Homo sapiens: one gene and its partners. The protein of the gene in region 6 purifies or fractionates together with the protein of the main gene of each other region. This does not show direct contact. Each region holds a gene or a part of one and is shown on either strand. Other genes may lie near its edges.

The links.
Region 1: the proteins of MTSS2 (region 6) and GCA purify together in Homo sapiens (affinity purification with mass spectrometry; one large-scale study listed by BioGRID and IntAct). This does not show direct contact.
Region 2: the proteins of MTSS2 (region 6) and AMMECR1 purify together in Homo sapiens (affinity purification with mass spectrometry; one large-scale study listed by BioGRID and IntAct). This does not show direct contact.
Region 3: the proteins of MTSS2 (region 6) and POTEI purify together in Homo sapiens (affinity purification with mass spectrometry; one large-scale study listed by BioGRID and IntAct). This does not show direct contact.
Region 4: the proteins of MTSS2 (region 6) and CHAMP1 purify together in Homo sapiens (affinity purification with mass spectrometry; one large-scale study listed by BioGRID and IntAct). This does not show direct contact.
Region 5: the proteins of MTSS2 (region 6) and SLBP purify together in Homo sapiens (affinity purification with mass spectrometry; one large-scale study listed by BioGRID and IntAct). This does not show direct contact.
Region 7: the proteins of MTSS2 (region 6) and CNN2 purify together in Homo sapiens (affinity purification with mass spectrometry; one large-scale study listed by BioGRID and IntAct). This does not show direct contact.

Annotation. Positions count from the first base shown.
Region 1 is NC_000002.12:162,350,632-162,354,131, reverse strand, and holds part of GCA (grancalcin), read right to left. Parts: intron 1,795-3,500; coding exon 1,725-1,794; intron 721-1,724; exon of another isoform or gene 399-720; intron 1-398. UniProt on the Homo sapiens protein: Calcium-binding protein that may play a role in the adhesion of neutrophils to fibronectin. May play a role in the formation of focal adhesions.
Region 2 is NC_000023.11:110,210,086-110,213,585, forward strand, and holds part of AMMECR1 (nuclear protein AMMECR1), read right to left. Parts: intron 1-3,500.
Region 3 is NC_000002.12:130,488,829-130,492,328, forward strand, and holds part of POTEI (POTE ankyrin domain family member I), read right to left. Parts: intron 1,913-3,500; coding exon 1,842-1,912; intron 452-1,841; coding exon 407-451; intron 1-406.
Region 4 is NC_000013.11:114,324,503-114,327,822, forward strand, and holds the end of CHAMP1 (chromosome alignment-maintaining phosphoprotein 1), read left to right. Parts: coding exon 1-1,779; 3' UTR 1,780-2,820; downstream 2,821-3,320. UniProt on the Homo sapiens protein: Required for proper alignment of chromosomes at metaphase and their accurate segregation during mitosis. Involved in the maintenance of spindle microtubules attachment to the kinetochore during sister chromatid biorientation.
Region 5 is NC_000004.12:1,692,231-1,695,319, forward strand, and holds the end of SLBP (histone RNA hairpin-binding protein), read right to left. Parts: intron 2,611-3,089; coding exon 2,544-2,610; intron 1,484-2,543; coding exon 1,367-1,483; 3' UTR 501-1,366; downstream 1-500. UniProt on the Homo sapiens protein: RNA-binding protein involved in the histone pre-mRNA processing.
Region 6 is NC_000016.10:70,676,054-70,679,553, forward strand, and holds part of MTSS2 (protein MTSS 2), read right to left. Parts: intron 3,271-3,500; coding exon 3,262-3,270; intron 3,190-3,261; exon of another isoform or gene 3,079-3,189; coding exon of another isoform or gene 3,057-3,078; intron 2,357-3,056; coding exon 2,199-2,356; intron 1,847-2,198; coding exon 1,739-1,846; intron 926-1,738; coding exon 828-925; intron 1-827. UniProt on the Homo sapiens protein: Involved in plasma membrane dynamics. Potentiated PDGF-mediated formation of membrane ruffles and lamellipodia in fibroblasts, acting via RAC1 activation. May function in actin bundling.
Region 7 is NC_000019.10:1,025,390-1,029,407, reverse strand, and holds the start of CNN2 (calponin-2), read right to left. Parts: upstream 2,801-4,018; 5' UTR 2,747-2,800; coding exon 2,684-2,746; intron 1-2,683. UniProt on the Homo sapiens protein: Thin filament-associated protein that is implicated in the regulation and modulation of smooth muscle contraction. It is capable of binding to actin, calmodulin and tropomyosin. The interaction of calponin with actin inhibits the actomyosin Mg-ATPase activity.

The DNA of each region.
Region 1 (3,500 bases), on a different chromosome or scaffold from region 6:
AACCAAAACAAGCAAAATGAGGAGAAAAAACAATCTGGAAAAAACAAAGGTTATATAGGAAGAAAAAACTTTAAAAATATATTAATAGTCTCAGAGAGATAAGGGACAATATCACATTCATGAAAATAGAACAGAAGCTCTTGGATATTAATGAAAAGCAGAAATGAAAGACTCAATAGAAGGTTTAGGAAATAAAGTTGAGGAAAATTCCCAAAAAGTTCAGCAAAAAAAAATGATAGGAGGAAAAAGATGATAAAAGTAGAAAACCCAGTGAAAACAAAAAGCATTCCAAGAAACAGAAAATATCATTGAAGAAAACGTCCTACATCTAAAGCAAAGGAGTTTCCAGGCTGAGAATACCATCTGAGTTCCCCACACAACACAACTAGGTACTTTACCATCAAATCGCAGAATACTAAAGACAAAGATCTCACAAGTTTCCAGAGAGGAATAACAAATCACATCACATCCAGGCAGGAAAGAGAAAGATAATGCAACAAGGGACGCTAGAAACAATGGAGCAATACCTTTAAAATTCTACTTGAGAATCATTTGTAACCTAGAATTCTATACCTGGCCAATCAATTCTGAAGGTAGAATGAAAGCATTTTTAGATACATAAGCTCTCAAAAATTTATCTCCCATATATTCTTTTGTTTGTTTTTGAGATGATGTCTCACTCTGTCACCAGGCTGGAGTGCAGTGGCCCAATCTCAGCTCACTGGAACCTCTGCCTCCTGGGTTCAAGTAATTCTCCTGCCTCAGTCTCCCGAGTAGCTGGGACTACAGGTGCGTGCCACCACGCCCAGTTAATTTTTGTATTTTTAGTAGAGACGGGGTTTCACCATGGTGGCCAGGGTGCTCTCGATCTCTTAACCTCATGATTCGCCCACCTCAGCCTCCCAAAGTGCTGGGATTGCAGGCATGAGCCACGGCGCCTGGCCGTATTTTTTTTTTATATTAAGAAGCTGCTTAACTATACATTTCACTAAAATAAGATAATGAATTTTTTAAAAGAGGACAACAAGAGATGGAGTAAAAAGGAGATCTAACTCAAGAGAAACGGGGAAACCAGCTTCAGAATGATGGTGAAAGAATCCCAGTATGACAGCTACACATAAAAAACTGCATATCCCAGAGTTCTAGGATAATACCTGACAACTAGTGATTTCAAGAAAAGCAAAACATTATATAAAAAGGAAAAGTAATCATACATTATCATAAGATACAGCTATAAGCAGCATTCAGATAGTAAAAATAAGGTAAAGACTAACATACCTAACAAAAGTTACTATATATTATAACTACATTGGAAGGACAGGAGGATGGGAAATGTTCCTCTGTGGAGTGCAGAGACAGGGGAGAGTTTAAGGTTAAAATAAAGTGAAATCCTCATCTTTCATAGCAGGATATCAATAGATAATCATAAAATCCAAAAATCAATCGTGAAAAAAATATTCTATCTTGAAATCTGGAAGCAAATTTCAAAAGAATCAGATTTTTAAAAGTCAAAAGAAGTGTCCTCTATGAGCAGTTAATGTTAAGGAGACAGGAATACACAATGAACAGTTATTTTCATAACGAGTTTTACAGTTATTTGACTCCTTAAACTATGTGCATGTATAACTGTGATAATTTTTTAAACATTTTAATTACAGGGACAAAAAAAGTAAGAAAATAAACTTCCTATTATAATTTCAACAAAAGGGGAAAAAAGATCTCACGAGAGTAAGTTCCATTAATTCCAGACTGTGTCAAACATCTCTGAAGTTCTTCAGCATCCACTTCACCATCCTGTTTAAAAATAATTATGACCTAATTTAATGTGCAGTTGTATAAAAGCATATTAAAATGTCAATTGACTGTTCTAGGCCAATCAAGACATATGCATTCTTTGAAACATTACTCTATAATTAACTACAAAATTCTAGAGATAATTACTGACAACAAAGGCATATTACAAAATATCATACCACAGAAATAATTTCTTCCACTTCTGAAGAATAGCACAATTACCCTGTTCTATAATGGTTCAAGACAATCTCATAAGAGTCATTGTACTTCTATTTTAAACAGTTAGAAAAACAGTTAAACAGTTAGAAAAATGCCTAAAATGTGTTCAGAAAAGTCTCGAAAACATCCCCACTCATGCTGTTTTGGGAGGAGATTATTTATAAATAATACTGAAGCTTTAACTGGAAGGGGAAAATATATTTTCCCCCACCATTACCCCTAGCAAAATTCTAGAGTCCCCCTGTATCTTGCTGCTATTCTTCTGATTACTGCCCAAACAAGTCTTGCCTGAACTTACTACAGAAAATAAAGTTTTAAAATGCAAACAAGAAATCACAATGGAAATGAAATAGGTTGAGTATTCTCATTATGATTTAGTACCTCATCCTGTTTTTGACAAAAATAAGTAATTCCTTTGGAACCATCACAAACATTGGCACAAATGCAAAATGTAGCTATGATGAAGGATCAAGGAGGCAAATTTAAAACCTACTCTTCATAAGAGATCCAAGAAACAACAAAACAAAAAACTTTTCTAAACTACTTCTAAGAAATATTATTAACACTCACATTCTAATGGATTTTTGGCAAAAGAACCCCTTACAAAACTGCAGCTGTTCTAATAGAAATTACAAAATACTAAGCAGCATTCTTCCCTTAACTGAATTAGGTAGCATTAGCGGTAGAAAGCTGAATGTCCTAATTAAATTACAAGAGCATCAGGTAGAGAATTAACAAAAATCAATTGCCCTTCGTTAGGCAGCAAGATTTTAAAATGATATCCAACTTCAAGTCCTATTTGTTCAGTTACTCAATTTGAGTCTCCACTTACTTATCTATAATACAAAGGTAGCTGTGTCATGCCCACATCACAGTTGCTGTGTGGAAAAGTAGAAGCAGTGTGCATACAAAAGTTAAAGTTGTTGGTATTACTGTGATGCATGTGTCTGTATGTATGAAGACAGAAACCAGAATTTCCCCAAATTAATTGATGATTTAATCCTTACTGTTTAGAATACTTCATCCTATAAATAAGAACACTGCAGAAACCTTTAATCAGGTGTTTTTCATAGAGCATTATTAATTATGAGGCCCATCAAAAAAGGATATGGCTGTAGATGTAAGTTCAGTAGTTGGGTTCCAGGAGCAGTATACCTAAGTCAGATGTTGCACCTGATCCCTCAAAGCTAGGTAGAACTCAATATATGAAAAAATACAGTCTAAATATTTAGACTAAAAATTGAAAATGGGATAGTTAATTCATCCATACGAAACATTTATCAAATGTTTATATATTCCTAATATCTACCTGTCAAGTAGGGAAAATATGACCAGAACCCTGTCTTTATGGAGTTTATTTATTCAAAAGCACAAGACTGGGAAATTTAAGGAAAGTATCAAATAGTTCAAACATAGCGAATTTATTGCTGACAATTAAAATGCTGAAATAGTTCAGCAGTCAAAAAGAGTTTCCAAATATATGTCCA
Region 2 (3,500 bases), on a different chromosome or scaffold from region 6:
CTAATGGAAATTTGTATGCATTAAATCACCTTCTAAGAAGTTACTTTACTTTGTACAGCTTGCTTCCCCACTAGGCTTCTTATACATTGACTTGTTGATGCACAGCAAACTCTTTCTAGATGGCCAGGAAGCCTGAAGCCTTCCTTTCCCAACACTCCACGGCACTTAAAAAAAAAAAAAACATTTAAAGTAGAGCATCAAGAAAGGACTAATCTTAATGATAGTGACATCTTATAAAAAAACTCAACGTCCCTGGGAAAATATGTACTGTGAAAAGCATTTTCCTGGATATATGAAGCTCATATTTTTTAAGTTAGAAGAGAGAAAAAACATGATGTATATCATAGTTGGGAAAAACTAACCAAGAGGGGAAACATAACATATACAACCAGAAGTCATTTCGCTGGGTGACTTCATGAGTCATGCTTACCATCTGTGTATGAATGGGAACTCTGTTTTCAATGGCACATTAAGAGGAGCTAAAAAATGTAAACCTTTAAGGGGGGAGTGAGGGTGAAAAGAACATTAACTTCTAAAATATGTGGGAGATAATGACAGTAGCCAATTTATTCATCTCATCTGTTTACTCTCACGAAGGTTGTTACAAAAGCACCCTATTATTAACTGCAACTGAACACGTCAGAATTGAGCTGTGATCACTCAAGAGGTGTGCCTTGGAGGTTGCTTTTAAAGTGAAACACAGCTTTCTGAGTACCAGGAGTCCAACGAGGCTCAAATACAATGACAGATGCTTTGGTACTTTAGGGACAGAGTGAGATCAGGGGCCTGAGGTATAGCTTTATAGTCCAGGGACAGATTTTTGGCATCATACAATAACTGTGCTGGCCAGCCCCACCCAGCATGGGTTGATTCCATGTACGTATTGTGTGCTCCAATGGAACAGTCTGTCTTGGGACCACAATGTATTGCCCAGGTGACAGCTGTATAGAAAAAGTGAGATACCAGTGATCCAGGTAGCCAGATATAGGAGAAAGTGACTAATGGTTTGTGAAAATGTCATTAATCTTTTGAAATCTGATCTAAGGAGTTACTTTAGAATACAGAGAATATTTTTACTTCATGCCTTCAAGTGATCTTGTCTCTAAAGCACAGAAGTAAAAGACGCTTGATTACAATTTAGAAAATATTTTGACTTCTGTCAGCAAATTGCTACATTAGCTTCCACAAAATCACTGGTAACATACTTGCTATACGAATTCTTCTACAAACAAAAAGTTTATTCATTTATATCATCCTGAAAATGAGCACCTATGAGGTGACACACATAGAATCACCCCTCAAGTCAAGCTCCAGTCCATTGTAATGTCTGGTTTTATATCCTTTCAGATTTTTAAAAAGGAAACATGGCTCCCAAACAGTTTAACTCTACAAGTTCCAGGCTATGTCATTTTGGCAGGCTCCAACATGCTGCATGAGTTTTTCTTTCTTTACAAAGCACCATGTCTGTCAATCACCCTGTCATTCAGAATTAAGAAAATGATGTCAACTGAAGAACACAGAACAATGGTGATGAGTTTCCGTGTTCAAACACAAAGCATATCATGTCAGATTTATCTAGGGGAGCAATTTTCCTCATTTAACAACCATTTTAGCCTTGCAGGTAGACATTCCAATTTATCAGCTAATGAAATTTTTCCTCAAATTATTCACTCTTCATCCTTCTCATACCTACTAGGACAATAAGTACATCATGATGTGGGCAATGATCAGTTATTCTTGGAAGGGTGGGGCCACTGCTCTAATTTGTCCTTACTGCCTTTTGTGGATGGCTGTTATTTTTAATGACTGCCCAGATTCCTTCAGAGGCTACCCATAAACACTTATTTTAAATGTTATAATTACTATTCTGAGGAAATAGAACATATGGAAGCATTATTGATTAGTCTGTCAATTCAATATTGACTTGAAATTAGTTACAGCCATTTGTAAAACCATTTGTCAAACATCCCTCACATTATCAAACAGAAGCACTCTAGCTCCTAAAACAAGGTCTAAAGTAAATCCTACTTTCCTACTAACTTCCATTATAAAATTAGAGACATGTTATCAGAAGAAAGTTCCCAAATAGACCGAGTTAAAAACCTTGCATGAAAAAGACAGTAAGATGGTAGCCAGACGCGTGGCAATTCATTTGTTTCCTGATCATCTGAAAACTGGGTGGCTATTACCACTGATCGTGGTCACGTTCCTCATCCTCATGACCACAGGGATATCTGTCTTGGTAGCGAAGATATCTACCTCTATGCTTTGGGACTTCTAGACTTTGCCCTCTTCCTGCTTTAATCTGGGCATTTTCATCCCTTTAATTAGGAATTCCACTGCAGTAACACACTTAACCAGTGGGGGTCAATTCTCAAACTGTACTTCCACCAGAAAAGTGCTACGTTAGAAGCTTCTGTTTGTATAAAACATGCTCATTATCTATCTTCAACTTTAACATTCTGTATTAAAATTCTGTAATAATCTCCTTGTTTTCCCCTGTGGCATAAACATACACAGGACTTCACATTTCAGGTTAAAATTGCATACTTATGGTGAATAGGATATTTTTTCTTGGAAGAAAAGTTGTACCTATTAGTGTGAAAATTCTCGTGAAGCATATACTTTCATAATATAGACTGACTTCTCAAAAAGGAAATTCAAAATATAATTTACTTATATACAAAGATAAACCATAAAGACTTCCCCACAATCTTTTAAATAGTGATTGCATATTCAATATGATCTGTTATGTAACCAAATATTCAGATTTATTGATACAAAGACAGATAAAGAATGGAAAAAAAATTTTAAAAAGTCTTAGTATAATATATAAAAGATAATGGAAAGAAATATTCCAAAATGTTAACAGTAGTTATTCTCAGAATGGTGTAATTATAAATGACTCACATTTCTCTCATTATATGTTTTTAATTTAAAAAATTTTCTTCTTTGATAAGTTAAAATTGCTATTATGAACAGAATATATGTATAAAGTTTATTTTCCATTTTTATTGTAGTAAAATACACATAAAATTTGCCATTTTAACAATTTTAAAGTGTACAATTCAGTGGTATTAAATACATTCACAATATTGTACAACCACCACCACTATCTGGTTCCAGAACTTTCTCACCACTCCAAATGGCAACCCTGTACCATTAAGTAGTCACTTCCCATTTACCCCTCCCCCTAGCCCCTAGCAACTATTAATCTGCTTTCTATCTCTATGGATTTGCTCATTCTGGATATCTCACATAAATGGAGTCATACGGAATGTGGCTTTCTGTGTTTCACTTCTTTCACTTAGCATAATGTATTCATGGTTCATTCATGTTGTAGCATGTATTTCACTTCTTTTTATGGCTGAGTAATGTTCAATTGTATGAATATAACATATTCTATTTATCCATTCATCTGTTGATAAACATTTGGGATGTTTCCACCTTCTGGCTATTGTGAACAGTGCTGTTATGAACATTCATGCACAAGTTTTTGT
Region 3 (3,500 bases), on a different chromosome or scaffold from region 6:
CCAGAAAATGAGATGCTCCCCAAATTTCACATTGAATAGCCATACAATTTTCTAGCTGGAAGATACACAGAATAAGAAGCTATCTTCTTTAGCCACATTATCTATTGATAATCAGACTAAAACCAAGAAAGATAAAATGATTGGTCCAAAGCTCCTAAAGTGGCATTACCTAGCATTTTATGGCACCATTCAGGATTGTTCCATAATAATCAAAGAATATCTCTAGGCTTTGTATCTCTTGAAAACTCAAAGTACAGAATTCTTTCTGAGTTAAATATTAACTTTTTCACTCATGATTTATGCTACTTACATGATAGGATCATGTATGCCTACACTTACTACATTTTGTTAAACAACATAATGTAAAAATCTAATTCAACAGAAACATTTGAATATGAAGGTATACCTCTCTATCACCATCCTTATTTATTTCTGGTTCTTGAGACATTTTCTGCAGAGGCAAAAACAGAAGGTTAATTTGCTTGTTGTGTTTCTGTGATGTCTCCTCTTTTGGAGCGCATGTTTTAAAAAAATTTTATTCTTAACTAATGAAGTATGGACGATGAAAAATTAGAAAATAATTAAAATTAAAATTTAACTGTTAAATAAATAATAATTAAAATTAAGAATTAACTTTTTAATCTATGTTTAGCTACTGCCACATTACTGGCTTCTGACTAACATGTGAAAAATAATTCACCTTAGCCCAACGAAGAAAAAAAACGTGAACCAGCAAACTTAACTTGGTCACCATTTGTTTGGACTAAACTTGTTATGTGTTAAATCTACCAAAAATGAATCAGCAGATGATTTGTAGTGTTCCAAAATCTTCCTCACTTGAAAAGAGTTTACCTCATGAAACCCTAACTAGTGAGCCCCTACAGTGCACTGAAGTGCTTTTCTAAAAGATTCCTAACTGGATTGTAGGCACCATTTAAATTATTAGGAGCCGAAATCAACACCAAACAGAAAGAGATGCAATTTCTCAAATTTTAATTGAGATTATATACTGTCATATGATAGTGTTATGTATCCAGATTATCTGCTTAAGTCCAGTTCTAATATATTCTAATGTGTACTAATTACAGTGGATAAAGATTTTTTTAATAATATGTACTAATTTTCTGCAACTGAAATAAATTAGAATGTTATTGTGTTTGTGCACTAACACCAAAGGTTCCATTCTGCAAGATATGATTCTTGTAATAGGCAGCTGTGTTGCTTTTATGACCTGGTTCCCTCCCTGAACAGAAACGCTGAGGTCAATGAGAGACCATAAGGCAGAATATATTTTTAACCTTGGTATCAGTGACTGACAATATAAAACTGCAGATTTTCAATCACTGGCCATGATTACTCCTTAACCATGAATCCAGCTCAGGGACCATCAGAGTTACATTGTTCATAATTCTATTGCTTAATAACATAATCCAATAATTGATGTACCTTCTTCATCATGTTCGGGTGTTGTAAAAATAAAAGAACAAAGTTCTGAAATTTGTTTTTGCCTCTATTCCAAAAGGAAAGATTAGCTATAAGCTAATCAAAAAGGCAGATGAGAATATTTTAAATAAAAATATTATAAAATAAGAGTATTTTAAATTTTATAGTGGTTATGTTTTTTAAGTTAAATATCAAATGTTAAATTAGAATCCATTCTTCTGTTAATGAGATTACTGAATTTATTAAAATAAATTTTAACAATCTATTAAAAAATTCTTTAAAAAATCTATTGATTCTCAAAACCTAGTCTGAAAGGTAATTTCATTTGGACTATCTAATATTATTAAAGCAAAGAAAACAACATTAAATCAAAAATTTAAATTTAAAATTTCCCATGCCTCTGGCTGGCTATTTTCACTGCCTTTGAACCTTTGTGACTCTTCCTCTGATGTCAGCTTTAAGTCTTGTTCTGTTGAGAAATCCATATATTCAGTTAAAATGAACCACTTAGAACAGTTAAAAACTATTGCCTTTATAAAAATAGATTTAAGACAACATTTTATTTCATAAATTGAGTGTTTAGTTTTTCATGAAATAGTTATTTAGGAAATAATTCTCCCAAACTTCAACAAACCACTTGGGGAGACACCTGATGTCATTCACTCACAAATTCATCCACCCAACATAAATGAACAAAACCACCAGAAACACAACTTTAAAATACAGTAGAAACATATAAGGTAACACAGTATGTTGTTCTCCACTTCCTAATAGTGAAGCAGTAAATGTAAAGAAAAGGAAATTTAGTTTTAAAGAGAAACAAGTTTTCCCGCACTTAGCTAGTCTGACTCTAAGGATAGTAACAAGCAGGGCCCAGGAAAGGTCATGGTGACCCTGCCTGAGAAGCCAGAGCCCACAGGTATGGGCTCCAGACATCCCACAGCAAGGTTAAGAAAACAAAATCCTTTACTGTCTCCCCTTCCCCTCAGCATTCACTCAGAGCTGTTTTTACAAATGCATATTATTTGCAAGTTCCTGTTGTCCTTCAATGCAGCTGCAAGGTCATAAGCTACGCTGAGGTTGCAAAACTGTCACTATATGATTAACTGCCTTTGTTCTGCTTCTGTAAGCTTGCCTACATAAGCCAAGCCCTGTCTTTGTTCAGGGCTCAGCTTTCGGATGCAAATCCGCTGAGCTGGTGCGAACCTAAATGAAATCCTCCTGTTTCACCCACTTGGTCTCTCCTGCCTCCTGTTTTCTGCAACAATAGTACCTTACAAATGATTTCAAAAATTACTACTGACACCTTTATTAGTGTACAATCTCTTCCCAATATCTAAAATGTTTCCCTCCACGATTCAGACATATTTATTTTCATTTTTCTTTCTTTTTTTTTTTTTGAGCCAGGGTCTTGCTCTGTCACCAGGCTGGAGTGCAGTGGCGCAATCTCAGCTCACTGCAACCTCTGACACTCCCTGGTTCAAGCGATTCTCCTGTCTCAGTCTCCGGAGAAGCTGGGATTACAGGCATGCACCATCATGCCCTGCTAATTTTCGTGTTTTTAGTAGAGACGGGGTTTCACCATTGGCCATGATGGTCCTGATCTTTTGACCTTGTGATCTGCCTGCTCCAGCCTCCCAAAATGCTGGGATTAGAGGTGTGAGCCACCACACTTATCCTTATTTTTATCTTTTAAAACAATGCTATGAGAACGTCTTCCTTGATTCTGCATGTCTTTCCCCAGATAAACAGGTACCTCCTTCCTTGAGGCTGCCTTAGTACTTCACTGATTTTTCTACTGCATCTTTACCACCTGAACTCTACATTATTCCTCCACATGTCTGTCCCGTCTGCTCCAAGACTGCAGAGGACAGTCTTGCACATCATCTTACTCACATTTTACTCAGAAATTTCTTATTGAGTCCTGCTAAATACATGCTAGGCATTAGGGTTTAAAAACAATTAAAATAAAGCATGTCAGGGATGGCTTTTCTAGAAAACATGCCCAAGCAGAGACTTAAATATTGAGACTAGCCAGATTAAAAGGGGTAGAGGGC
Region 4 (3,320 bases), on a different chromosome or scaffold from region 6:
ACTCTTAGTAATCCCAAACCCCAGAAGCAGTCTCATTTCCCGGAAACATTGGGGCCACCTTCAGCCTCATCTCCAGAGTCACCAGTTCTAGCTGCTTCCCCAGAACCTTGGGGACCATCCCCAGCTGCATCTCCAGAATCTCGGAAGTCAGCCCGGACTACCTCCCCTGAGCCAAGGAAGCCATCCCCTTCAGAGTCTCCTGAACCTTGGAAGCCGTTCCCTGCTGTCTCCCCAGAGCCTAGGAGACCAGCCCCCGCTGTGTCACCAGGCTCTTGGAAACCAGGGCCACCTGGGTCCCCTAGGCCTTGGAAATCCAATCCTTCAGCATCATCAGGACCTTGGAAGCCAGCTAAACCTGCTCCATCTGTGTCTCCTGGACCTTGGAAACCAATTCCTTCTGTATCTCCTGGACCTTGGAAACCAACTCCATCTGTGTCTTCTGCATCCTGGAAATCTTCATCAGTCTCACCCAGCTCCTGGAAGTCTCCCCCTGCATCTCCTGAGTCATGGAAGTCTGGCCCACCAGAACTCCGAAAGACAGCTCCCACGTTGTCTCCTGAACATTGGAAGGCAGTTCCCCCAGTGTCTCCAGAGCTTCGCAAACCCGGCCCACCACTATCCCCAGAGATCCGTAGTCCAGCAGGATCTCCAGAGCTCAGAAAACCCTCAGGGTCACCAGATCTTTGGAAGCTTTCTCCTGATCAGCGGAAAACTTCTCCTGCTTCACTTGATTTCCCTGAGTCCCAGAAAAGTTCCCGTGGTGGTTCTCCTGATCTCTGGAAGTCTTCCTTTTTTATTGAGCCTCAGAAACCTGTCTTCCCTGAGACCCGAAAACCAGGTCCTTCTGGGCCATCTGAGTCCCCCAAAGCAGCCTCAGATATCTGGAAGCCTGTTCTCTCTATCGATACTGAGCCTAGAAAACCTGCCCTGTTTCCCGAGCCTGCCAAAACAGCCCCTCCTGCTTCTCCAGAAGCACGCAAACGTGCCCTTTTTCCAGAGCCCCGGAAGCATGCCCTTTTCCCTGAACTCCCCAAATCTGCTCTATTCTCAGAATCACAGAAGGCTGTTGAGCTTGGTGATGAACTACAAATAGATGCCATAGATGATCAAAAATGTGATATTTTGGTTCAGGAAGAACTTCTAGCTTCACCTAAGAAACTCTTAGAAGATACTTTATTTCCTTCCTCAAAGAAGCTCAAGAAAGACAACCAAGAGAGCTCAGACGCTGAGCTTAGTAGTAGTGAGTACATAAAAACAGATTTGGATGCGATGGATATTAAGGGCCAGGAATCAAGCAGTGATCAAGAGCAGGTTGATGTGGAATCCATTGATTTTAGCAAAGAGAACAAAATGGACATGACTAGTCCAGAGCAGTCTAGAAATGTGCTACAGTTTACTGAAGAAAAAGAAGCTTTTATCTCTGAAGAGGAGATTGCAAAATACATGAAGCGTGGAAAAGGAAAGTATTATTGCAAAATTTGTTGCTGTCGTGCTATGAAAAAAGGTGCTGTTTTGCATCATTTGGTTAATAAGCATAATGTTCATAGCCCTTACAAATGCACAATCTGTGGAAAGGCTTTTCTTTTGGAATCTCTCCTTAAAAATCATGTAGCAGCCCATGGGCAAAGTTTACTTAAATGTCCACGTTGTAATTTTGAATCAAATTTCCCAAGAGGTTTTAAGAAACATTTAACTCATTGTCAAAGCCGGCATAATGAAGAGGCAAATAAAAAGCTAATGGAAGCTCTTGAACCGCCACTGGAGGAGCAGCAAATTTGATAACACAGTGTGAATATTTGTTCTACAAAGGTGTTTGTTGGAACCATTCTTTGTAAGTATAGCTTATCAGATAGCATAGTTGGATCAGTAGATGACATGTATGGTGTACCGTGTTTCACTGTCTCAGTTGTGTTACTAAGAATGAGCATTTGATCATTTTTTTCTGGTCTCTGTCTATGTGACTATCTTGTAAGTCAATAAATTTCTGTATAGTCCAGATGGATTAAACTTCTCATTTCTTTTAAATATGTATGAATAATAATACAAGGAAGTAGGCATTCCATTTAATAATCAAGAGCAAGTTGTACTCAAAGCATTCAGTTAAAGTGTATCTGTGTGTGGAACTAATTTCAGACAATAGAAAATATTAGTTGAAATGTTTAAGAATTAGGCATGAAAAATAAATTTGAGAAATTTTGTTTCCTTACATGTATTTTTAAATCATAAGAGTTATTTTCTATCTGATGTAAAATTAGTTTATAAATCTTAATCAGCTTCTAGATGTTTATTAGCTTTTATGTCATGAAATGTTGGAGTCTCAGGGTTGCTGATTTTCTGCTAATGGGAAAAATTGACTAAGTCTTTAAAATAGTTTGCAGCCTTCTCCCACAGGAGACAAGTGAAAGATAAGTGTGATTTTAGATCTTTCTTGTCCATAGTTGTTTTCAGTGGAGTCTTCCATTCTGTATCTTACCCTAAGATCTGGTTCTTCCCTCCCCATCCCCACCCCCCACCCACCGCCTGCCAGCTCACACTAATAGATGATTCTTAATTGCCAAATGTGTTAGAGTTTGTATATCCTACTCCTGGGCCTTACATGTCGCCTGTTGGGGCTTAAGACCAGGTTGATAAGTAGGAACTGAAAGTCTTCCAGATTCACAGTAGAAAATTTTATAGACATTTCTGTTAAAGAAATATATCGATTTTATGTTTTTCAATTATGTTACTGTAAATACCTTGTACCTGTTCATGGATTATTTTATTCTAAAATATTTTGTCAAATGTGTATCAACCAAATTAAAAAGAAAGGTTTTCATGTCAGCAACATCTTCATGTGTGTTTTCTTTTGTGTAGTTTTCATTGTATGATATACAGATCCATTATTTCCATGTTTTCAACATAGTTTTCTTATCTGGAGCAGCATTTTCTTAGCTGTGTTTTCTCCAAGTTCTGTGGTCAAGTAAGTTAGGGGAATGCGTGTATAGGGAGGACTCTGTGTCAAAAACCTCATCCTTTCATATGAAAGGTTTTTTAATTCCAGTGGTTGCCTATCCTGCCTGCCTCTAAACAGTGTGAGGCATTTAATCTCAAAGCATTCTGATGTGTAGCCAGGATTGAGATGCTGTACTGGGTTTATTTTAGCTATTCCCAGACATTTTTTTAACAAGGAACAGTTTTGTCCTAGTTCCCCACCCGCTGGCTTCCCTATTAATATGCCCGTTGGGATAGCTTAACAATATTTAGTAATATGGTTTGGCTCTGTGTCCACACTCAAATCTCTCTCTTTTTATTTTTGTTTTTTATTTTGAGACCGATCCTTG
Region 5 (3,089 bases), on a different chromosome or scaffold from region 6:
AGGGCACCCTCAGACTGATGATTATCCTGCTGCAGGGTCTCTCCCAAGAGACAGGGAAGGCTGTCATGCCAGTGCTGATGAATAAGCATCAGACCAAATGTGACATGTGACACCTATTAAAGAAGGCCCCCGGCCACACGCAGTGGCTCAAACCTGTAATCCCAGCACGTTGGGAGGCCGAGGCAGGCAGATCACTTGAGGTCGGGAGATCGAGACCAGCCTGACCAGCATGGAGAAATCCTGTCTCTACTAAAAATACAAAATTAGCTGCGTGTGGTGGCACATACCTGTAATTTCAGCTACTTGGGAGGCTGAGGCAGAAGAATCGCTTGAACCCGGGAGACAGAGGTTGTAGTGGGCCATGATTGCACCATTGCACTCCAGCCTGGGCAACAAGAGCGAAACTCTCAAAAAATAAAATTAAAAAAATAAAGAAGGCCCTTTACCCAGCGCCACTCACTGAGTGCCACTTGCTTCAGACACAAGAAAGGCAGACACAATTCTGACCCTCCAAACATGTCAGCTCTCACGGCAGCTGGCCCACCTGGCAACAGCCCCAGTCAGTGAAAGAGGGTTCTTTCCTTTTTATTTTTGCAATATCCCATACAAAAGCAATAGAAACGTAACAGTCTTAACAAGAAGTTTACAATTGAATATTTGAACAGAAAATCTGTACACATTATCATTTACAGCAATTTTACATGGTAAATTAACTGATTGTTTTAAAATGTTCTTTCTAAATCGCTCCACTCTGCTGCCCTAACTCTTGGAGTATTCTAAAGAGTCTAACTAGTGCTATTTACAAGTACCAAATTAAGACCATATAACTTACATAAAACTCATTAGTTTAATAGCTCAATTTAACAATGTCTGACTTCAGAATGCTGTTATGACATATTGATAAAAGGCCAAAAATTAAGTTTCCATAAAGATATTAAAGGTGTCTGAGAATACTTTGATGCCTATAAAAGTAGCTGACTCTCAATTGGTCCCATGGATTACATGGTTAAATCCAAAACAGTCCACCTGACAAGCAATAACTGAAGATGCCTGTGGAAAACCAGTTATGTAGACGTGTCAGCTTACCCTGGAGGACAACAGGGATTACGCAATTAAGCTCGCTGGAAGAGAGCTTCAAGTACTTTCTTGGACTTAGCTCCATTTACAATTTAAAACATGCAAAATATACTCACTATACATAAAATTAATGTTTCTTAAGAAAGTAAGGCAAAAATAATTCAGCATGAGCTAATGGACTGCTAACAGAGAAACCACCAGGTACAAGTGCACACACATGCTTGGTGCCTGGCCAGCCTTCCACCTAGTCGGGGAGGAGCTGTTTCTCTTCCTGGCCGCCAGGGGGCAGTTAGCTCATGGCTGAGAAGTCTCTCAAGGGTTCAGTTAAACAAGCTTCCAAATCAAACTCATCCTCCACTTGACTGTCCATGTGTCTCACCTTGGTGGGTGTGCCAGAGTACACATCCTGGAAAACAGAAGCATGGCTCGGTTGACATTCATCTCACCCTGAAAACAGGGGCCCCTTCCTACACCCCACTCCTTATGTGGTAAATCATGTGATGTAATGCACAGCAAGGTGTACACTTCACGTGCAACTGAGACAGATTTTAATAATAACACTGCAAAGAGAAACCACATGTACCATTTACAAGACACTGACGTTTAGATGTGCACACATCCCATTGTGCTGGGATTACAGGAAGGAGTCACTAGTCACTGTGCCTGGCCATGTACATAGTTTATAAGCACAGAAAGAATTGTAAAAGCCTAGACAAAACCACAAATAGTGGCTGTCTCAGGACAGGAGACAGTATTTAAACTGATACATTTAAAAACGGTTTTCTTTTCTCTTGAGACAGAGTCTCACTCTGTCACACAGGGTGGAGGGCAGTGGTACAATTTCGGCTCATTGCCACCTCTGCCTCCCGGGTTCAAGTGATTCTCCTGCCTCAGCCTCCTGAGTAGCTGGGATTACATGCCTGCATGACCACACCCAGCTAGTTTTTGTATTTTTAGTAGAGACTGGGTTTCACTATGTTGGGCAGGCTGGTCTTGAACTCCTGACTTCAGGTGATCTGCCTGCCTCAGCCTCCCAAAGTGCTGGGATCACAGGCGTGAGCCACCACGCGCAGCACATGGTTTTCTTTCTTTTTTTTTTTTTGAGACAGAGTCTTGCTCTGTTGCCCAGGCTGGAGTGCAATGGCGCCATCTCAGCTCACTGCAACCTCCACCTCCTGGGTTCAAGCTATTCTCCCACCTCAGCCTCCTGAGTAGCACGGACTACAGGCACCCACCATCATACCTGGCTATTATTTGTATTTTTGTAGAAACAGGGTTTCACCATGTTGGCCAGGCTAGTCTTGAATTCCTGACTTCAGGTGATCCGCCTGCCTTGGCCTCCCAAGGTGCTGGGATTACAGGCGTGAGCCACCGTGCCCAGTCCAAACTTCAGTTTATAAGGCAGCATGTGTTATTAACAATTCACCTGCAACCCCCAAGCTGAAAGACTTATCCAAAGTACTTACAAAGTCATCCTGAGAGCTGGTCTGGGGCTCGGAGCTGCTTTCTGCAGATTCAAGGTCTACAGGGTGTCTGTTAAACAAGATCCAACATGTGCGTCAGGCACTAACTTAACAAAGCCAGGAGACGGGGCGCTACAGACAAACCCCATCCATATGGTACAGCCACAACACTGACAGTGTGCCCGAGGCTCCCTGAGGGGTCAGCTTTCAGTGACTATTTGACAGACTTAATCCCAGCCCAATCAATCCAGCAAAGAGAAAGCGGATGGCAATGAGAAGCAACAAAAAGATCTGCTGGGCTCACCACACAAGCATCCTTGGAAACAGAAACACTCATAAGCCCAATTTTTGAGGGGGAGAAATGAGCACTGTGATGAACATACTATGCATTATCACTAATTTTTCCAAGTTTCTACTCAGAGAATGGGACAATGGTGTCACACTGGGGGAAAAAACCCAAATGACATCTGTCAGGACAAACTGGTAAAGCCACTTACAATCGTTTCAAACATGCCAGTCTCTAAAAAATTTCCCAGCACAGAGGAGAAA
Region 6 (3,500 bases):
GGTAGTAGCTGATTGCTGTGCCTGGCTTCTCCCAAGCTCTGGATGTCCAGCCAGTGATTCTGGGGAGAGGGGTGCCTGGCAAAGGGGGGCCCCCACCAGCACTTCACTCTGTGCTTACTGTCCTCCCCACCCAAGGAAGCTTGAACCATCAATGTCTCCTCCAAACCCAGCCCCAGTGCCCAGCCAAGGAAAGGCCCCTGATCCTGAGCCTGGCTAGTGACTGCGAGATCCTTGGCCTCTCCCCAGCTGTGTGAGGCTCCCGGGGCTAGCCTGGGCCAAGGCTCCAAATGCGGCAGCTGCCTCCATGGGAACCAGCTCTTAGGAGCCAGCCAGGCTGGAGTGTCCTATACCTTATGGCCCCAACACTTGTTTCTAGAAGCCTTCCCATCTCTCCCTGATCTTTGACTCTTACTATGACCCCACACGGTGCTAGGCCTGGCAGAGTCCAGTGGTTAAATGCTGGGACTTCATGTGTCAGTTTCCCCTTCTGTAAAATGGAGATGACACCATTCCTGATACAGCAGTGTTAGGATTCAATGAGAAAAAATGCATAAAGCACTTAGCACAGCACCTGGCACATAGTGGATGCTCCATAAATGAAGCTGCTACTGCCCCTGCTTCCTATTCTGCCAACAAATGCCTGTGCCAGTAGCAGTCTTGGGATGACAGGGCACATTTTCCCTCTACATATGCAAATTCCTCGGATGGTGTAAAAGTTGTGAATTTTGAGGCCCTGAAGCAATTTCTGATGCAATTTTGCTGGGAACATCCCCACTTCCTCTTGGGATACCGCCCCCCACACCCCTGGGAACCCCACCCCCACTGACCTGCACATGCTGGACTTCCGGGAGCTGGAGCTGCTGGGTGATGAGGGTGGGGTCTGGTAGGACCAGCTGTAGTCCGAGCCCTTTAGGTCTTTGATTACCTGGACAGGGACATGGATGGGGGTCACTGGAGGCAGCTCCTCAGAGCTAGTAGGGCCAGAGGCCCCCCCCCACTCTCTAATTGTGAACCACATCCCAGGAGAAGACCCAGAAATCTGAAGCCCCCTCCCCCAGGCTCCTCCTAATGTGGGGAGCAGGGAGACACCAGAGGACACAGCCTTCTCGGAGCCCCTTCAGCTAACATGCACTGAGTAGAGATTCCGAGCCCAGCCTGGGCTGGGCGAGAGTGACCCTGACACCATGGGGTGCAGGTTGCTCCTGCGCCTCCCTGAGTTTGTTTACTCCTGTTCCTGTCTTAGAGTGGAAGATTCCCTGAGATAACGTGGCAGATGCTGGGCATGCAACAAGTGCCTCTGGAGCGTGCTGCCCGCAGGCTGTGGGACAGGACTGGTCTGAGTGCAGTGGCAGCAGGGCTGGGGTGGGGTGGCCAGGTACGCCTGGGTCTAGGGGAGGGGATGGGGTTTCTGGCCATGAAGGGAGGTGGGGCGTCTCCAGGTTCGGCAGGAGGTCTGCCCACATGGAGCAGGGCAGGCAGACTCTGGGCCTGACTCCATGGATCCAGGACTTCACCCATCTACTCTGAGTCTGAGAACGCTGCTGGCCAGGGCATACCCTCCCCGACCTGGGCAGGTGCTCCGGGATGGCCTGCAGTGGGTGTCAGAAGGGGTCTGGTCTTATGCCCCTAGCTGCCTCCCCCAAATGCCATCCTCTTTTCCCCTTTACTGTTCCCAACCTAGGGCAGCCCATCTCCTCCCTGCCCCTGGCCCTGGCCCTTGGCCAGAGGGCTCCCGCACCTGCTCGCTGGCGGGAGGCAGTTTGTGGGGTTCTGCTGTCAGCACCACCAAGTCGTCGATGATGCCCTGCAGGTGGGTGATCTCTCCCAGCATGGTCAGCTCTCCATTCTGAGGAAGCAGCGAGTCAGACCTGCTGGCCCTATCGCCCACCTGCCCGCCTGCCCAGCGCCCCTGGAGAAGCAGCAGCCCTTGTCGGGCCTCTCCTCTCTCACCCCTCCTCGCTAACCAATGCTGCTCGGGGCTGGTGCAGGTGGGGCCCACACAGCCCAGAGGGCTGGCATGATGGTCTCTCCAGACCAAATCAGTGCATGGTGAGCTATGAGACCTGCCTTTGGGCCAGGAGCATGTGGCCTTGATGCCCCCAGCCAGGGACTGCTGAGAAGTGACCCTTCTTGGAGGTCAGAAGGTCAACCCTGGGCCCAGCCCACCCCTCTGGGGTCTGAGTCCCCAGGAGTCCCACCACCACAGGCTGCAGGAAGGTGATGAAGGTGCAGAAGCGGCCCCGCTCCTCGATCAGCGCCCGGCGCACGGCCTGCTTCTCCGTCTCCTCCAGCAGCAGGTACATGTCGTTGACGTCCTGCAGGGCACTGTCCAGCTGGGGCTGCAGGTCTCCTTTCCCTGGAGGGGTGGGGAGGAGAGGCCTTGCTGGGGATGCCAGCCTGGCTTGCCACACCCACAAATGGGCTCAGACCCTGGTGGTGGCATCTCTCGGCCGTTGGGCTGGGTGTTGCCCTGGGGCCAGGGGACTGCGGAGGGCAGTGAGGACTCTGGGGCTTGTGGAAGGGCTAGTCCCACCAAAGCAGGCAGAGAGGACAGACACACACACAAGAAAGAGGCCAAAGCTGCAAAGCCACGCTGGATTGGGGCATCTCCGGGGGAGGCTCTTGGCGCCCAGGAGCTCTGCCAACACGGAGACTCGCTGGCCTCCACCTGGGGTACCCTCACTGACCCGGGATGGCGCCCCTCACCTCACAAGGTCCAGGGAGGTGGGGCAGAAGCGGGACAAGAGAGAGTGTGGGGCTCAGCTGTAGGCCAGGCCACAGGGGGCGGGGGCCAGGAGAGCTAGGGCTGGGCCTTGGAGGCAGGGAAGGGGTCTCAGTGTGGGTCCCCACTCAGCTCAGGGAGCAGAGCACACAGCAACAGCGACACAAGAAGCAGCAAGAAAGAGAGAGGCGAGAGGATGATGCAGAGGAGATGATGAGATGGCAGGTGAGGAGGTGACAAGTAAGGACGCAGGCCAGCCTGGTGGGGGCGGGGCAGCCAGGGCCTGTGGCCCCCATCCCGCCCTGGCCAACCCCTCCTGGCCTGGCAGACTGACCCAGCAGTGGCCCGGGACTCATCCCTGGCCAGGGACCCCGGGGGCCCCAGGGGGACTGTGCCCCAGGCCCCTCCCTCGTGGACCGACCGCCTTCCTCGCTTCTCCTTGGCCTGGAGAGGTTCCTTCCAATGGCCCTGAGCTGGGGGAGACAGACAAATGCGACAAGGACGGGAGGAGCAGCTGGAGGGACCGACATTTGACTTACCAAGTAGCTCTACAGGAAGGATGTGGGAGGAGAGGAGGAGAGACAGAGAAAGAAAGAATGTGTGAAAGACGCCGGATGGACAGAGCCACTCCTGGGGCGGGGGTGCCTGGGCCTCCTGCTGCCTCCCATAGGGAGGTTCTGGACCAGGTTTGGGGGGAAGGGCAGCTCCCTCTGTCCCACCCAACAGGTTGGAGGGTCCTGTGTCGGGGACAGCGCCCCTCTGGCTGGGATGAAGGCTT
Region 7 (4,018 bases), on a different chromosome or scaffold from region 6:
GCTGGACCTGCCTGGGATGATTTGGGTTAGGGTCCCCTGAGCTAGACCTGCCTGGGATGATTTGGGTAGGGTCCCCTGACCTGGACCTGCCTGGGATGATTTGGGTTAGGGTCCCCTGAGCTGGACCTGCCTGGGATGATTTGGGTTAGGGTCCCCTGAGCTGGACCTGCCTGGGATGATTTGGGTTAGGGTCCCCTGAGCTAGATCTGCCTGGAATGATTTGGGTAGGGTCCCCTGAGCTGGACCTGCCTGGGATGATTTGGGTTAGGGTCCCCTGAGCTGGACCTGCCTGGGATGATTTGGGTTAGGGTCCCCTGAGCTGGACCTGCCTGGGATGATTTGGGTTAGGGTCCCCTGAGCTGGACCTGCCTGGGATTATTTGGGATAGGGTCCCCTGACCTGGACCTGCCTGGGATTATTTGGGTTAGGGTCCCCTGACCTGGCACCTGCCTGGAAACAGCTCGTAGCCCAGAGGAGGCAAAGGCGGGGAGGCCCCCCAGTACCAGCTCACAGCCCACCCAGCTTGGCTTTCCACGCCCGGGGGCAGCCCCGCCCCGCCGGCAACTTTGATCCCGAGGAATGAGAACGGTGGCTGCTGGGTACACAGCCCTGCCTTGCCCAGCTGCGCCGCGTCTCTGCCGGCTCAGGGGCCCAGGTCCCCTGGCCCCACCCCCAGCCGCTGCCGTCCTCCCCCACCCCCGCCCCCCCGCTGCCCGGCCGCCGGCCTTCCAGCACATTCCTGTTCACCACAAACTGCCAGGAATGCGCGCTGCCTCCCCGGCTAAATCTGAACCAGCTGTTCCCAGCGGGTCCGGACCCCCAAGCCGGGATGCAAGGCCGCAGACACTGTGGATCCGAGCTGCCTCCGTGCCGTCCAGCCGGGAGTCAACTGAGCCACGGGGAAGCGGGGCGGGGGGCGGGTCTCTGGCTGTTTCAAGCAGCCGGTAAAGCGGGTGTGAGCGGGAAGCCAGGGGGAAGCTGGTTTCTAATTGGGAGGCGACCCTTCCGTGACCCTGGCAAGCTGGCCGACGCCTCGCCCACCCTCCAAACGGACAGACTGAGGGTTGCGCGGGGAGCCTGCTAAGCGGCTCTTCCAGCCTCTGTCCTCACCCCCGCCAGGGCAGGTATCAACCTGCCCCCACCCCACCCCACCCCGTCTCCGGAAGCCGCCCCACCCTCCTGTGCCCGCTCCCACTTCCGCAGGCCCAGCAGGTACTGGGTTCCGGTCTTGGCCCTGTCACTTGTGGGCTGTGTGGCCCTGGGCAGCTGGAACGACGTCTCTGGGTCCCTGTGGACACCGGTGCCCTTAGCCGGCTGTATGCAGGGTGCGGCAGGGTGCCCACCCCACTGCACGGGGGGCTCTATGAATGCAGGGTGCAGATGGCCCCTTGAAGGAGGAGTCGTGAGCCCCGGGCTGGGGACCCTGGCTCAGGCCTTGACCACCCCAAGCCTCAGCCTCCCTTTTTGGCCAAGAGCTGGTCTGAAGGCTTGCAGGGGCTCACAGCGGGGAAGCAGGAATTCTCCCTCCAGTCTGCCGGCCCTGGAGTGCCGCCGGGCAGGTGGCTGTTGGGGCTGGCAGGGCCGGTGCCCTCAGAGCGTGCAGAGGCAGTTTCCCCTGCAGAAGTCAGCTGTAAGGACACCTTCCCAGGTGCCCAGTGGGCGTCGGGGGAGGGGGTGGGCGGGGACGACACCCCCCTCCAGCTGGAAGGTCCTGGAGGGTCAGGTCCCGGTCCTGTCCGTGGGTCTCGCATCACAACCCCCGCCCCCCACTTTCCCTGGGAATCCTGTCCAGGACCCTGCTGTGTGACCCTGCAGAAGTGTCTGGTCCTCTCTGAGCTAGAACCACAAGTGCTCTCTTAAAAAGTGTCTCCCCTAGCCCTGGCTTGTTTTTAATTATAGAGATGGGGTTTCGCCATGTTGCCCAGACTGGTCTCGAACTCGCTGGGCTCAAGCCATCCACCCAGCTCCGCCCCCCAAAGTGCTGGGATTACGGGCGTGAGCCCCCGCGCCCTGCCGGGCCCCAGCTCTTCTTTCGAGGCTGCAAAACCCCACATATCTCAGGGCCACCTTCAGAGAACCTCTTTGTTATCCGTTTAAATTAGTCAGATGGGAGACAAAGACCGTGCAAAGCGGCTACCGCCCCTCCCCCCAAGACACCCCCAAGGTGTCCCAGAGGCCAGGAAATTCCTGTTTGTGGGGGGGTAACACTTCTCAAAAACCACTCGGCCATGCCCCTTCCCCTCCCAAAGCTAAGAGGCCCCAAAAGCAGAAGTGTGGCCAGGAGATGACGGGGTTGCTGGGGTCCCCCCCAGACCCCCAGAGCGTTGTCGGACCTTGAACGGACCTTCTCGAAGGTTGAGTGGGCGCCAGGGGCTTCACACGTGGGGGTCCTGGGGCCATGGCGAGGGGACGAAGTCAGACCCAACTACCCCTAGATGTTGGGGGGGGGAATGGGTCACTCGTCCCCCAGATCTCAGACCTGGGTGCTCCCCAAGATTCGCGGGAGCCTCAGGGGGTGCCCGCAGACATCCCCCCACCAGGCGTCAGGGAGAACAAGGGCCCGTCCGCCCCGGGTCTCCAAGCTCCCTGCCCGGGAGGTGCCGGGGGCGCCTGGGGGCTCCTGCACCGGTCGGAGCGTGCGACGGCCGCGCTGTCGGGGGGACAAGGGGCGCCCCTCACTCACCCGGTTCTTGACCTCGGCCGACAGCCCGTACGAGGGGCCCTTGTTGAACTGCGTGGAGCTCATGGCTGGCGGGCGGGCGGCGGGACGGGGCCGCACAGGACGGGACGGGACGGGACCGCCGGGCTGGCGCGGGGTTGGGACGCGCCGGGCTCCGCGCGCCACGCCCCCGCCGCTGATTGGCCCGGAGCGCAAATGTCCTTATAAGGCCTGGAGGCGCCGAATTCCTGCGGCCGCGGACTTCCTGAGCCCCCTCGGTCGCCCCCGGACCCCCGCCTGGGCACAGCACCCCCGTCACCAGAGGCCTGGAGGGGCCCCTCGCCCCCTTTGATGCCACGGGAAACTGAGGCAGGGAGGGGCCGAGGCCGCCGGGACGTGGCACTCCTGCGGGCTCTCTGCTCAGAGCTCGTGGGCGGCTCTCACTCTTTCTCCATCTCAGACTTCTCTTCTGCCAGAAAGGGGAGGGGAGAAGGCTACCTTTGGGGCAGGAATGAGGGCCCCTCTCTGCCACTTAGAGGCGTCTAACCCCTTCCCAGGGAACTCTACTAGCTGGGAGGTGGACCAGGGAACCAGGGCAGGTTCCTCAGAGAAGGGGCCATTGGAGCTGGGGCTTTGTTGGATGAGTAGGAGTTTGTCAGTCCAAAAGAGAATAGGATTCTTACTGGGTGCGGTAGCTTGCACCTGGAGTTCTAGCTACTTGGGAGGCTGAGGCCGAAGGGGGAGGATCCGTTGAGCCCAAGAGGTCGAAGCTGCAGTGAGTTATCATCACAACATGACGCTCCAGCCTGGGCAGCAGAGCAAGAGCCTCTCTCTAAAAATAAATAAATAAATAAAAATAAAAATCCGAGTGGCTCACGCCTGCAATCCCAGCACTTTGGAAGGCCGAGGCGGGCGGATCACTTGAGGTCAGGAGTTCCAGACCAGCTTGGCTAACATGGCGAAACTCCGTCTCTACTAAAAATACAAAAATTAGCCGGGCATGGGGGCACATGCCTGTAATTCCAGCTACTGAGGAGGCTGAGGTGGGAGGATCACTTGAAGCCAGGAGGCGGAGGTTGTAGTAAGTCGAGATCGCGCCACTGCACTCCAGCCTGGGCGACAGAGCAAGACTCCGTCTTAAAAAAAAAAACAAAAAAAAAAAACACAAAAAAACCCTAATAATAATAAATTATTAAAAAGTCTCCGGGACAGTCTCCTGCCAGGCAGTGCTGGCTCTCAGGAGACCTTAGCTCTGGCCCAGCCCATGCCCAGGAAGACAGAGCTGGCACAGACCAACCCCCAACCCGGATTCCCTGTATGAGCCAGCACAGGCGGAACCCCCCCACCCCGCCCACCCTG